Linked DNA regions of Homo sapiens. The protein of the gene in region 1 purifies or fractionates together with the protein of each later gene. This does not show direct contact. Each region holds a gene or a part of one and is shown in the gene's direction. Other genes may lie near its edges. The genes, in order: TJP2 and KIF14.

The links.
Region 2: the proteins of TJP2 (region 1) and KIF14 purify together in Homo sapiens (affinity purification with mass spectrometry; 2 studies listed by BioGRID and IntAct, with this or other methods). This does not show direct contact.

Annotation. Positions count from the first base shown.
Region 1 is NC_000009.12:69,218,857-69,226,356, forward strand, and holds part of TJP2 (tight junction protein 2), read left to right. Parts: intron 1-2,030; coding exon 2,031-2,640; intron 2,641-6,447; coding exon 6,448-6,551; intron 6,552-7,165; coding exon 7,166-7,319; intron 7,320-7,500. UniProt on the Homo sapiens protein: Plays a role in tight junctions and adherens junctions. Acts as a positive regulator of RANKL-induced osteoclast differentiation, potentially via mediating downstream transcriptional activity.
Region 2 is NC_000001.11:200,589,533-200,597,032, reverse strand, and holds part of KIF14 (kinesin-like protein KIF14), read left to right. Parts: intron 1-3,263; coding exon 3,264-3,366; intron 3,367-4,792; coding exon 4,793-4,953; intron 4,954-6,760; coding exon 6,761-6,908; intron 6,909-7,500. UniProt on the Homo sapiens protein: Microtubule motor protein that binds to microtubules with high affinity through each tubulin heterodimer and has an ATPase activity. Plays a role in many processes like cell division, cytokinesis and also in cell proliferation and apoptosis.

The DNA of each region.
Region 1 (7,500 bases):
TGTTCACTCCAGTGGGGCAGGTAGACACACACAGTGAGAATGGTAATAAAGTGTGCTTAGGGGCAATGCTAGTAGGCATATACCCACATATATGGTTGTGTGTGTGTGTGTGTATTTTTTTTTTTTTTTTGAGACAGAGTTTTGCTCTTGTTGCCCAGGCTGGAGTGCAATGGCACGATCTTGGCTGACCACAATCTCCGCCTCCTGGGTTCAAGCGATTCTCCTGCCTCAGCCTCCCGAGTAGCTGGGATTACAGGCATGCACCACCACACCTGTCTAATTTTGTATTTTTAGTAGAGACGGGGTTTCACCATGTTGGTCAGGCTGGTCCCGAACTCCCAACTTCAGGTGATCCGCCAGCCTTGGCCTCCCAAAGTGCTGGGATTACAGGCGTGAGCCACCTCACCCGGCCACATATATGGTATTTAATGTTTTTCAACTTTATATTATGAAGATTTTCAAAGAAAAAGGAAAGTTGAAAGATCAGTGTAATAAACATTTATCTTCTAAAATATTACTATTCTGCCATCTTTACTTGGTCTCTGTATGTATATAAACACTCATGTCTTTCTGGGCAACCATGCGAAGGAAAGTTACAGACATGACAGTTCATTTCTACTTACTTCACATGCATTTCCTATGAATGAGGACATTCATCTATATAATACTATTATCCGATCTAAGAAAAGTAATAATTTTACAGTATTATCTAAAATCCAGTCCATATCTCAAGATGTCTTTTTCATTTTTAGAGATGGGATCTTGTTGTGTTTCCCAGGCTGATCTTGATCTCCTGGGTTCAAGCGATCCTTCCACCTCAGCCTCCCAAGGTGCTGGGATTACAGGTGTGAGCCACCATACGCAGCTCTCAAAATGTCTTTGATATATGTTTTCTTCCCTATCCAGGATCCAAAGTTCACTCATTGCATTTAATCATTATCTCTTTAGTTCCTTTTAATCTAGAAGGGTTCCTCTTTCCCCTTGCCCCTCTACCCCACCCCCCACTTTAAAAATGGCATTGGGCCAGGTTCAGTGGTTCACGCCAGCACTTTGGGAGATGGAGGCAGGCAGATCACCTGAGGTCAGGAGTTCGAGACCAGCCTGGCCAACATGGTGAAACCCCGTCTCTACTAAAAATACAAAAATTAGCCAGGCATGGTGGTGTGCGCCTGTAATCCCAGCTATCGGGAGGGTGAGGCACGAGAATCGCTTGAACCTGGGAGGCGGAGGTTGCAGTGAGCTGAGTACAGTCCAGCCTGGGCAACAGAGCGAGACTTTGTCTTAATAATAAATTAAATAAATAAATAAATAAGGCATTGACTTTTCTTCCTTAAAATTTTAAAAATTTATGCATAATGCATAGTTATAGGGTATGTGTGATTAATTTAATACATTAATATGATTTGTAAAATTCAGATGAGATTGGGCACGTTCAGGATGGTATGGCTGTAGACATGATTTGTAAAATTCAAATCAGTGTATTTGGAATATCCATCACCTTAAATAATTGTCTTTTCTTTATGGTAGAAACGTTCAGATTATTTTCTTCCAGCTATTTTGGAATGTACAGTAGATTCCTGTAAGCTGTAGTCACCCTACCGATCTAACATTAGGTCTTATTTCTTCTATCAGACCATATATTTGTACCCATCAATCAACTTCTCTTTATCCGCCTTTGCCCCCTTGGCAGCTATGTATAGAATGTCACACTTTCTGGATTTTTGTTTTTTGAGTTTTATAACTTAGTGATTTGGGCCTCTGAGACTTTTCAAACTTGAGTAGAAGCAGATTTTGGAGATACTATTTTATTATTACCTTAATTCAAGGCCCTGTACTCAGAGCTTCACGGTCATTGTCCTATTCTAACCCTGTGAGATTTTTATTGTCCGTTTCCGGATGAGGAACCTGAACCTTAGTGAGTCGGCAGGGATACGGTTTTCCTGAAACCAGAACCAGGGCTCTTAACCACTGCCTTCTCCACATTCAGTTGTGATTGTCCTGCGTCCACACTGAGTTTGTTTTGACAACAGGTGGTCAAGAGGCCCCGGAAGGTCCAGGTGGCCGCACTTCAGGCCAGCCCTCCCCTGGATCAGGATGACCGGGCTTTTGAGGTGATGGACGAGTTTGATGGCAGAAGTTTCCGGAGTGGCTACAGCGAGAGGAGCCGGCTGAACAGCCATGGGGGGCGCAGCCGCAGCTGGGAGGACAGCCCGGAAAGGGGGCGTCCCCATGAGCGGGCCCGGAGCCGGGAGCGGGACCTCAGCCGGGACCGGAGCCGTGGCCGGAGCCTGGAGCGGGGCCTGGACCAAGACCATGCGCGCACCCGAGACCGCAGCCGTGGCCGGAGCCTGGAGCGGGGCCTGGACCACGACTTTGGGCCATCCCGGGACCGGGACCGTGACCGCAGCCGCGGCCGGAGCATTGACCAGGACTACGAGCGAGCCTATCACCGGGCCTACGACCCAGACTACGAGCGGGCCTACAGCCCGGAGTACAGGCGCGGGGCCCGCCACGATGCCCGCTCTCGGGGACCCCGAAGCCGCAGCCGCGAGCACCCGCACTCACGGAGCCCCAGCCCCGAGCCTAGGGGGCGGCCGGGGCCCATCGGGGTCCTCCTGATGAAAAGCAGAGCGAACGAAGGTAGGCATGCTTGATGTGGGAAGAAAAGCACTGTTGTGATATGAATAACCTTTGTTTTCTTAATTTTTTTTTTTCCCCCGAAAGTGTTGCTCTGTCATCCAGGCTGGAGGGAAGTGGCGTGATCTCGGCTCACTGCAACCTCCACCTCCCGGGTTCAAGTGATTCTCCTGCCTCAGCCTCCTGAGTAGCTGGGTCTACAGGCACCCGCCACCACGCCCAGCTAATTTTATGTTTTTAGTGGAGACAGGTTTCAACATGTTGGCCAGGCTGGACTTGAACTCCTGACTTGAGGTGATCCGTCCACCTGAATCTCTCACAGTGCTGGGATTACAGGCATGAGCCACCACGCCTGGCCAGGAATAGCTACTTTTTTTTTTTTTTTTTTTGAGACGGAGTCTTGAGTCTTGTTCTGTTGCCCAGGCTGGAGTGCAGTGGCGTAATCTGGGCTCACTGCAACCTCCGCCTCCCAGGTTCAAGCAGTTTTCCTGCCTCAGCCTCCCTAGTAGCTGGGATCACAGGCGTGCACCACCATGCCTGGCTGATTTTTTTATTTTTAGTAGAGACGGGGTTTCACCGTGTTGGCCAGGCTGGTCTTGAACTTCTGACCTCAGGTGATCTGCCCACTGCAGCCTCCCAAAGTGCTGGGATTATAGGCATGAGCCACTGCACCTGGCCAGCTAACTTTTTTTTTTTTTTGAGACAGAGTCTCACTGTGTCACCCTGGCTGGAGAGTGCAGTGGCATGATCTCGGCTCACTGCAACCTCTGCCTCCTGGGTTCAAGTGATTCTCCTGCCTCAGTCTCCGAAGTAGGTGGGATTATAGGTGCCTGCCACCACGCCCGGCTAATTTTTGTATTTTCAGTAGAGACAGGTTGGCCAGGCTGGTCTCAAACTCCTGACCTCAGGTGATCTGCCCACCTTGGCCTCCCAAAGTGCTGGGATTACAGGTGTGAGCCACCGCATCTGGCCGAGCTATCTCTTAATTGCACTTAACCAGCATTGTACCCAGCATTGACCTAAATGCCTAACACCAATTCGTTCGTTTAATCCTCAGAACTACCTCATGAGGGAGGACTCTTGTTTCTCCATTTTATAGACAAGGAAACTGAGGCACAAAAGGTTCATTGATATACACAAAGTTGTGTCATCATTGGAAGAGCCAGGCTTCAGAATTTTGGCTTTAAACTAGGAGACCAGTGGTTCTCAAAGCAGTGCATCACCTGGGCACCCCTTAGAAATGCAGACTCTCAGGCCCAACCCAGTCCCACCAGCTCAGAAACCATGGGGTGGAGCCGGGTGCAGTGGCTCACACCTGTAATCCCAGCACTATGGGAGGCCGAGGTGGGCGGATGACTTGAGGTCAGGAGTTGGAGACCAGCCTGGCCAACATGATGAAACCCCATCTCTACTAAAAATGCAAAAATTAGGTGGGCGTGGTGGTGGGTGCCTGTAATCCCCACTTCTCTGGAGGCTGAGGCAGGAGAATAGCTTGAACCCCAAGGGGCAGAGGTTGCAGTAGCAGAGATCATGTCACTGCACTCCAGCCTGGGTGACAGAGCGAGACTCTGTCTTGAAAAAAAAAAAAAAAAAAAAAAGAAACCATGGGGTGGGCCCTCAGAGTCTCTATGTTAATAAGCTCTCCTAGTGGCCTTGCTGCATCTCAAGTGGAAAACCACAGTGGAGGACAGTACTCCGCCTAATCATTGTTGAGTTTCTGCTCTATGCAAGGGCTATGTTGAATATTCTTTTACGTAGTCCTCACAAGAACCTTGTGTGTTAGGAGGCTTCGTTTCTGTTTTGTTTTGTTTTGTTTTGTTTTGTTTTGTTTTGAGACGGAGTCTCGCTCTTTCGCCCAGGGTGGAGTGCAGTGGCGCGATCTCGGCTCACTGCAGGCTCCATCTCCCGGGTTCACACCATTCTCCTGCCTCAGCCTCCCAAGTAGCTGGGACTGTAGGCGCCCGCCACCACACCCGGCTAATTTTTTGTGTTTTAAGTAGAGACGGGGTTTCACCGTGTTAGCCAGGATGGTCTCGATCTCCTGACCTCATGATCCGCCCACCTCAGCCTCCCGAAGTGCTGGGATTACAGGCGTGAGCCCCCATGCTTGGCCAATGAGTGCATTTTTTAAGAGGATTGAGGAATTGTTGAAAAATGCCAGAGAGATGTTATCACTCAAGCTTGTCTCACTCAGCCTTCTGTTCTGGGCTGTGAGGCTGTTTGACCACTAGGGGCTCGCCATCCATGAAAGTAGCTTTGCCCTTCCCTTATTCCATTCTTGACTATCAGCTTCCTAAAGGACTAGGGCATGGGCCACAACACTTCTAATCTTTGTGGTAAGATCTGGCTGACAAGTTTACCGTAAATCATTTAAAACTTATTTTAAAATTGACTTCATACCTTTCCTGAATTGTGGAAAGTTACTTTGTTTTGTAATTATAAGATTTTTAGTTTGAACAATAATAAAAAATTTTGTGCCTGTTTTAAAACCTGCTCTGTTGTGGTAGTTTCCTAAAATGTGAACAGTTATTCTTAAAATAATGTATTTTTACAAGTTTATTAAGTAAAACCAGAAGAGTCTTAAGTAGCATTGAAAGTATTTAAAAATATGCATAACTTAGTAATTACAATGTTTTTGTTTTTGATAGCAATTCAGAGTCCATAAACTCCCAAAGCTATGCTGGTTTTAGTTGAATGCTTTATTAATTACTTTGCCTGACTTCTTTACCCCTTTTCTTCACCCACTGAATTCCTTTCAATGCCAAGCTTCATATAATCTAAAATGCTAGATTTTTTGCAGTGCCTTCCTGTAGACAGCCTCATTGTCAGCAGAACATGCCTATTAAGGTGTGCTGAATTGTTTTTTTTTCTCCCCAACATTTTATTTGAAAAGTGTTAATTTGGCCAGGCGCAGTGGCTCACACCTGTAATCCTAGCACTTTGGGAGGCCGAGGCGGGTGGATCACCTGAGGTCAGGAGTTCGAGACTAGCCTGGCCTACATGGTGAAACCCTGTCTCTACTAAAATACAACAATTAGCTGGGCATGGTGGTGGGCACCTGTAATCCCAGCTACTTGAGAGGCTGAGGCAGGAGAATCACTTGAACCTGGGAGGCAGAGGTTGCAGTGAGCTGAGATCATGCCCCTGCACTCCAGCCTGGGTGACAAAGCAAGATTCTGTCTCAAAAAAAGAAAGAAAAAGAAAATGTTAATTTTATAGCAAATAAACATATAACCTTCATCTAGTTTTACCAGTTGTTAACATTTTGCCACACTTTCTTTTTCCTCCTCCTTTTTTTTTCTTTCCTTCTACTCCATCACCCTTCCTGTTACCTCTCTCAGTGGGTTTTTTGGTACTATTTAAGTAAGTTGCAGGCAACTCACCATTACCCATAAATATTTCAGAGGTATCTTCCAAAGATAAGAACATTCTCCTACATCAGTCACCGTAATACCATTATAACACTTAAGAAGATTAACATTAATATCCCTTTCATATATTATAGTTCATTTTCAGATTGCTCCAAATGATGTAACTCATTCTTCCCCCACCCTCCACTGGATCAGGGACCTATGGTAGTTCATGCATTGCATTTGGTTTTTATGTAACTTTTAATCTGGAACAGTTTCTCTACCTTTTTTGTTTTTTATGGCATTGACTTTTTTGAAGAGTTCAGGCCAGTCATCTTACAGAATTTCCCATATACAAAATTAACTTTTTAATACATATTTTAAAATAGTCCTATAAACCAGACTAAGTTTTTTGAACAAATTGATAACATACGTGTATGTTTATGTGTTTGTCTCCTAGAGTATGGTCTCCGGCTTGGGAGTCAGATCTTCGTAAAGGAAATGACCCGAACGGGTCTGGCAACTAAAGATGGCAACCTTCACGAAGGAGACATAATTCTCAAGGTGGGTAGATGGGGGCAGAGAACGGTAGTGTGCATACTGCCGTTCATCGCCTGCATGTCCACATTCAGCACCCACACAGTGAGACTTAGATCCAGTGAGAGTCAGTGGTAAGACAGAGGTGGCAAGAGCAGCATAATGAGACGATTTTTATCAGAAAAACCAGACATTGAGGGTCGTAACAGTTTAATGTCAGTTTAGAAAACAAAAACAAAAAAACTCCATGAATATTTTCTTCTTTCCTGTTTAAAGTTTAGATCCCTATTCCCTAAACTAAGGAAAGATGAGAAGGAAAGTTGGTGATATATGAATGCTGAATATTTAATAGGTCTTGTAAACCTCTCCAGTCAGGAAACACGTTCCAGTAGTAAACCAAACCGTTGTCTTGAGCTTGGAAGTTAAATAAATTAGCAGAGTAACTTACACCTGTATTTGGGATCCAGGCATGCAGGATTATATTTAATTTAAACGACAATTCATTTTTATTGAGTCATCCTAAAGCCAATATCTGTTTGAATATCTGAGCAAAGCCTTTACATTTTTAGAAGGGGAAAATATGAATTTTCTACTGTGAATAATTTTATTGCATTTAACATTACCATTTTTTATAAACACAGATCAATGGGACTGTAACTGAGAACATGTCTTTAACGGATGCTCGAAAATTGATAGAAAAGTCAAGAGGAAAACTACAGCTAGTGGTGTTGAGAGACAGCCAGCAGACCCTCATCAACATCCCGTCATTAAATGACAGTGACTCAGAAATAGAAGGTAAAGGAAGAGGAGGCTGTGAGCTTAGCTGGAAGTAAGGAAGGCTGTTGCTTCCCCATTCTTCTATTTAGTGTAGCTATCCAGCTGGAAGTTAAATTTCTAAGGAAAGACCCCTTGAAACCTTAATCTCCAAAGGTCACTGGTTGGTTGTTATTTGCTTATTAAAGTGCCTATTGAAATT
Region 2 (7,500 bases), on another chromosome or scaffold:
CAGCTACTCAGGAGGCTGAGGCATGAGAATCGCTTGAACCTAGGAGGTGGATGTTGCAGTGTGCCGAGATCATCATGCCACTGTACTTCAGCCTGAGTGACAGAGCGAGACTATGTCTCAAAAAAAAAAAAAAAAAAAAAAAAAGAGAGAGAGAGAGATAGAGTGTTCTGGCCAGGTGCGGTGGCTCACGCCTATAATCCTAACAGTTTGGGAGGCTGAGGCGGCAGATTACTTGAGACCAGGAGTTCAACATCAGCCTGGCCAACATGGTGAAACCTCATCTCTACTGAAAATACAAAAATTAGCCCGGCATGGTGGTGGGCACCTATAGTCTCAGCTACTTGGGAGGCTGAGGCATAAGAATCACTTGAACCTGGGAGGTGGAAGCTACAGTGAGCCAAGATGACTCTGCTATACTCCACCCTAGGCAATAGAGTGAGACTCTAACTCAAAAAAAAAAAAAAAAAAAAAGACTGTTGTACATTGAGGTCATAGAGATGTTCTAAATTTTCTTCTAGATGTTTTGAAGTTTTGCTTTCACATTTAAGTTATTGAATGTCTGGAATTTTTTATTTGGTGTGAATTAGGGATCTAAATTCATTTATTTTCCACATGAATAGCCATTTCTCCCAGTACCAAATATTAAATAGTTTATTGCTTCTTTTGGAATCTGTAGTGCTCCTACAAAAAATTTCTAAAAATATCAGAATCTGTTTCTTCCTACTAATACCCCATGGTCGTAATTACTTGAGCTTTGTAATGAATCTTTATTTATTTATTTTTTGATTTCAGAGTTTTGCTCTGTTGCCCAGGCTGGAGTGTAGTGGCACCATCTCAGCTCACTGCAACCTCCTGGAGTCGAGCAATTCTCCTGCTTCAGCCTCCTGAGTAGCTGGGATTGCAGATGTCTGTTACCACGCCTGGCTAATTGTTGTATTTTTAGTAGAGATGGGGTTTCACCATGTTGGCCAGGCTGGTCTCAAACTCCCACCTCAGGTGATCCGCCCACCTTGACCTCCCAAAGTGCTGGGATTACAGGTGTGAGCTACCACGACCGGCCTGTAATGAATCTTTATATCTTTTTTTTTTTTTTTTTTTTTGGAGATGGAGTCTCACTCTATCACCCAGGCTGGAGTGCAGTAGTGTGATCTTGGCTCACCGTAACCTCCACCTTCTGGGTTCAAGCGATTCTCGTGCCTCAGCCTCCTGAGTAGCAGCCACCATGCCCAGCTAGTTTTTTGTATTTTTAGTAGAGACGATTTCATCATGTTGGCCAGGCTCGTCTTGAACTCCTGACCTCAGGTGATCCACCCACCTTGGCCTCCCAAAGTACTGGGATTACAGACGTGAGCCACTGCACCTGGCCATGAATCTTTATATCTGTTAGGGCATATCCTTTTGTTCTTTAGGTTCTTTTGCTCTTTTATTAATTAATTATTTTCTTTAACAAATAAATACAGTATTATTAACATCTGTGGCAAAGATACAGAACATGCTCCCAAAGAGTTAAGAGTCCAGTAAGGAACTTGGAAGCCTCTTGCTTGCCTCTAACTCTCTACTTCCATTTTTCGTACCTTCCTCAGTTTATCTTGTTCACTAGACCATGAACTTTATGAAAGCTGATTTCATGTCTGTCTTCATTGCTGACACATAACTGGCTCTTGGAGGCTTAATGAATAAAAGAACTTCATGGCTGAGGCTGGTCATGTGAAAGAGAAAAAAAGAACTTCAGTATCTATTAATGCATATTAAGTGTTATGAGTACTGCATACTTACTGCTTAGAAGTGAAGAGAAGGAAGAGTTGACTTCTAACTTAAACCCTAAAGAACAGCTTCTTAGAGGACTCTAAATTGGGCCTTCAAGAATGGTTGCAAGAAGGGAGAGGATGTCCTATCTGGAAGGAATGACTCAAGGAAAGGAGGAAAGCTGACATTAAGGCAAATTCAGAGTATTCATATGGTTGATTAAGTGTGAAATGGGGTTCTTATGGGAAAATAGTGGCAGATGAGGGAGGTTGGTGGTTGAAGCCAGATTGTGGGGCGTCCAGAATGGTAGGCCATGGAATTTTGAGAGCAGAGTAGATAGAATTAGGAGAGGAAAGGGATCAGAACAAGTACACATTGTATAAACCTTCACCTGGATAAGACACTAGACTGGTAGGAGGGATGTAGTGCCTAAGGGTGAACTATTGTTTCCATGTACTTTTCTCTAGATGCTTTAATTAAACTATTATTCTCTAATCACAGATCTTGGAGCCTAATCCACAGCTAAAAAGATCTTTGGTTAGGACTCAGCTTTTGTTGCAGTTTTTCTTTCTATCCCGTTAATCCAAAGATGAATTGGACTTTGGAGTTTCTTTCCTATTCTCTGAATAAAAAGACTCAAATATGTAGCACTTATAGCTGATTTTCCACAGTATCACCTTATCATCCAGTAAATTAGATGTCTTAAGGGGTACACTTTGATCTCCATGTTTTTCCTTCCTCTGTAGTACCCTACTTTTCAAAAGGGGAGAAATATTTGTTCTTTCTGTTATTAAAGCTCATATGTAAAACCAGAAGCTTAGAAAATTAAAAAAACACTTAAAACTGTTTTATTCATAAGAAATCACTGGCAGTATGTTAATGTTTTTTGCTAGTTTTTTTTTTTTTTTTTTTTTTTTTGAATTTTTGGGGGAAGGTTTTTGTTTTCAAAGAAGTTATAATAAAAATACACCCAATGAAGAATGTTCCCACCACAGGTGGATCGGATTGCTAGAGGCCAGGCTTTTTTCACCAAACTTCAAAATCTAATTGGAGGCTCGATGCAGTGGCTCATGCCTGTAATCCCAGCATTTTGGGAGGCCGAGGCAGGTGGATCACTTGAGGTCAGGAATTAGAGACCAGCCTGGCGAACATGGCAAAACCCCATCTCTACTAAAATGCAAACATTAGCTGGGCAGGGCATGGTGGTGGGTGCCTGTAATCCTAGCTACTCAGGCAGCTGAGGCAGGAGAATTGCTTGAACCCAGGAGGTGGAGCTTGCAGTGAGCTGAGATTGTATCACTACACTCCAGCCTGGGCGACAGAGCAAGACTCCGTCTCAAAAAAAAAAAAAAAAAAAAACTAGTTGGAGGAAAATAAAATAATTTTAAATTATTGTTACATATTGGTATGAATCTTAACACCAAAGGAATAGCCCAAGCAGAATTATCCCATATTGCCTTTTTCTTACTTTTTAGTGTGTTCTATAATTGTTAACTATGTGCTTCTTATTTTAACAGTACTATCAAAAATTTTGGTGGGACAGTGAGTATTATCCCAGTTGGGGAAGCAAAGACATATGTAAATGGAAAACATATTTTGGAAATCACAGTATTACGTCATGTAAGTGGATGGGTGCTATAATATAAGAAACTGTTCGACTTTGGATAAGTCATTTAATTTCTTTGAGTTCTGGTTTTCTCTATAAGATAAGGGTGTTGAAGCAGATTAAGGACTTTTTCATTTCAAAAATTCTTTTTCCTATTAATTGCTTTCTTGTGCAAAGACAAAAGTTACATTTATATGAATCAGTACCTGAAGAGCTGACCACTAATAGCATCATTATGTGTCCTATAAAGAGCTAGGCTTTAGAATCAGACAGACAGGGTTGAAATCCTGGCTTTGCCATTTGCTCTGTGACGTCTGGCAAGTTATTTAACTAGATGATTAAACAATGTCACCCAAGTCAGGACACTTTTGAGATCATTATTAATAATTACATCAAGAGAACAAACATCAGCAGTGTGTTACAGGCAAACCCAGACCTATTGTGACTCTATATATCCTGCCTTTCAGAGATAGTGAAGGATTAACTGAAATAATAATTTGTGTATATAGTTCTTAGAATAGTATCTGCAAATAGTAAGCTCTCAATGAATGTCTCTTGTTATTATTAAGCTTTGTGCTGTTTAGTTTCCTCATTCCTAAAATTGGGATGATTATATGTATCTCACTGAGTTGTTGTGAATCGTAAATGAGATAACATAAAGTCTTGCACTTCATAATGATGTTTTGGGCAATGAGGGACCACATATGTAACAGTGGTCCCATAAGATTATAATACTGTATTTTTACTGTATTTTTTTCTGTTTAGATATACAATTATTTACCATTGTGTTATAGTTGCCTATGGTATTCAGTACAGTAACATGCTGTACAGGTTTGTAACCTAGGAGCAATAGGCTATGCCATATAGCCTAAGTGTGTAGTAGGCTATACCATCCAGGTTTGTGTAAGTACATTCCATGATATTCACACAACTATGAAATCACCTAACAGTGTACTTCTCAGAACATATCCCTGTTGTTAAGAGACATATGACTATATGTGTAATGTGCTTAATGCAGTGTTTGGTATATACAAAGTAATAAACGTTGGGAGGCCAAGGTGGGTGGATCATGAGGTCAGGAGTTCGAGACCAGCCTAGCCAACATGGTGAAACCCCATCTCTACTAAAAATGCAAAAATTAGCTGGGTGTGGTGGCACACGCCTGTAATCCCAGCAGCTCGGGAGGCTGAGGCAGGAGAATTGCTTGAACCCGTGAGGCCGAGGTTGCAGTGAGCTGAGATTGTGCCATTGCACTCCAGCCTGGGTGACATAGTGAGACTCTGTGCCAAAAGAAAAAAAAAGTAATAAATGTTAGTTGCTATGATGTTTATGTTTATCATTAATACTAGACTATATTGAATTGTTGGGCAAAATAAATTTTCTCATTTAATTTTTTGGTTGAGACTCACCTCAAGTAGTACATTTTTTTGTGTGCTTTAGGGTGATCGAGTGATTCTTGGTGGAGATCATTATTTTAGATTTAATCATCCAGTAGAAGTCCAGAAAGGAAAAAGGCCATCTGGAAGAGATACTCCTATAAGTGAGGGTCCAAAAGACTTTGAATTTGCAAAAAATGAGTTGCTCATGGCACAGAGATCACAGTAAGTATGCTGTTGATATGAAATAGTAAGTGTATGAGAGAGATCTACAACAGAGTTAATCACATTGTGCCAGTCTCTAGTAATTAACTCTTTGGGTGCTGGTTTCTAGTGATATAATTTTTTCTCTTAGTACATTCATTAGTTCACCAAATATATATTGACCATCTATTATGTGTCTGTCACTGTACCAAATGCTGGAGATATAAAGAATAAGGATTGAAATTTAGCTCATGTGCTGAAAGAATTCATCATCTCGAGGGGCTGACAGTTATAACAGTGCTATGACACAGTTCTCTGACAAGAGTCCCGAACTGTGTGGTGTGGAAGCTCACGGGGTGACACCTGGCCCTGACCGGTTATCAGGGAAGGTTTCTAGAAGATGAGAAGACGTCCCATAGAGGAGAATCCCAATAGACGATTAGAATTTAGCCAGAGGAAGACTGGGAGAGTGTACTTTTGTTTTTCTTTTCTTCTTGTGCCCCAGTTTTAGTTCATGCAGTATCGTAGGATTTCTGGCATAAGTAGTATCCTTGTAAGCTAAATGGTAAAGTATATACAAATAAAATGCTAAAGAGTTTGGACTTTATCTTAAAGGATAAGGGAAACATTAAAGAATTTTGAGCAGACGTGAGACACTCATAATCAGAATTACATTTTTAGAGAGATCACTGGCACTCAAATCTGGAGAATGCATTAGAGATAGAGCAAGCTTAAAACCTGCAAATGCAGCTAAGAGACTATTGAAGTAAGGTAAATATAGTGTGATTAGGTAGGAAGGAAACATAAAGGAGATAAGATTGACAAGGCCTGGTGACTAAAGAGGATGAAAGGAGGAGGAATCAAGAACTGGTTATAGGCTAGACTAACTGCTTTGTCACCTTTTAAGAAGCCTCAACCTGCTTTTGCCCTTTAAAAAGAATTTTTTTAATTGAATACAATATAAATAGCACAAAATTTACCATGTTAGCCATTTTTAATTGTATAGTCCAAAGGCATTAAGTACCTTCACATTGTTTTGTGGTTTTTTTTTTGTTTGTTTTTTGGTTTTTTTTTGAGATGGAGTCTGGCTCTGTCGTCTAGGCTGGAGTACAGTTGGCATGATCTGGGTTCATTGCAACTTCCACCTCCTGGCCTCAAGCCATCCTCCCACCTTAGCCTCCCGAGCATGTGAGACTATAGGCGCACACCACCACGCCTGGCTAATTTTTGAATTTTTTTGTAGAGATGGGGTTTCACCATGTTGCCCAGGCTGGTCTCGAACTCCTGAGCTCAAGCAGTCCACCTGCCTTGGCCTCCCAAAGTGCTGGGATTACAGGCGTGAGTCACTGTGCCCACCCTAGTGCCTTCACGTTGTTGTGCAACCATCACCATCATCCATCTCCAGAAATGTTTTATTATTCCAAACTGAAACTCTGTATTTGTTAAACAATAGCCATTCTCCTCTCTCCCTAGCTGTGATATCCACTAACCTTCTTTTTTATACTCTTATTCTTTTTTTCAGTAAAATTGGGAATGGAAATTTCTGTATAATGTAGTTACTAAAGCACTGATTTTATTTAAATGTCAGGCATCTGCAATAGTAACTAAGTTAGAAATAAGCAATTTTTCGTCCTGCGTGTTTAAATTTTGAGTGTAAACAATTGTAGAGCCAGTGAAAATTTTAAAAACACTGTTGATAGAATGTCAGAAATCAAGTTTTAAGATTGAAACTTTCATTCAATGGAAAACTTTTCAGTAGGATTAAGAACTATTATGATGTATAAAGAATTCTTAACATGTACCCTATAAACATCTTGCTACATTGTAGACTTGAAGCAGAAATAAAAGAGGCTCAGTTGAAGGCAAAGGAAGAAATGATGCAAGGAATCCAGATTGCAAAAGAAATGGCTCAGCAAGAGCTTTCTTCTCAAAAAGCTGCATATGAAAGCAAAATAAAAGCACTGGAAGCAGAACTGGTAAAAGGCAGAATTAGTTTTATTTTTTTTTTCCGACAGTGTACCCCAAGTGATGTGTTGCCTATAAAGTTGATTATGTCCCTATAAGGGAACTGGGAGAGATCAGAGATTAGTGAATCAAAGCCACAGTGAGTCTTGGCCCTCTTTAATTTTACTTTAAGAAATAAGTCAGGGCTGAGCATGGTGGCTCATGCCCGTAATCCCAGCTCTTTAGGAGGCCAAGGCGGGCAGATTACTTGAGCCCAGGAGTTCAAGACCAGCCAGGGGCAATGTAGGGAAACCGGTCTCTCCAAAAAGTTTAAAACATTAGCTGGGTGTGGTAGCATGCGCCTGTAGTCCCAGCTACTCAGAAGGCTGAGCTAGGAGGATCATCTAGCCCAGGGAGGTCAAGGCTGCAGTGAACCTTGACAGAGTGAGACTCTGTCTCAAAAAAAAAAAAAAAAAAAAAAAAAAGAAAAAAGTTGGTGGCGATAATAGACAATGGCTACTGGAATAAAAATAAAGAGAAACTTCTGTCCTCTAGCCGCTTGAGTCATGGCTGTCTCCATGGTTTATTGGAAATCTTGGGTTCCCAGAAGCCCATTTTAGATAA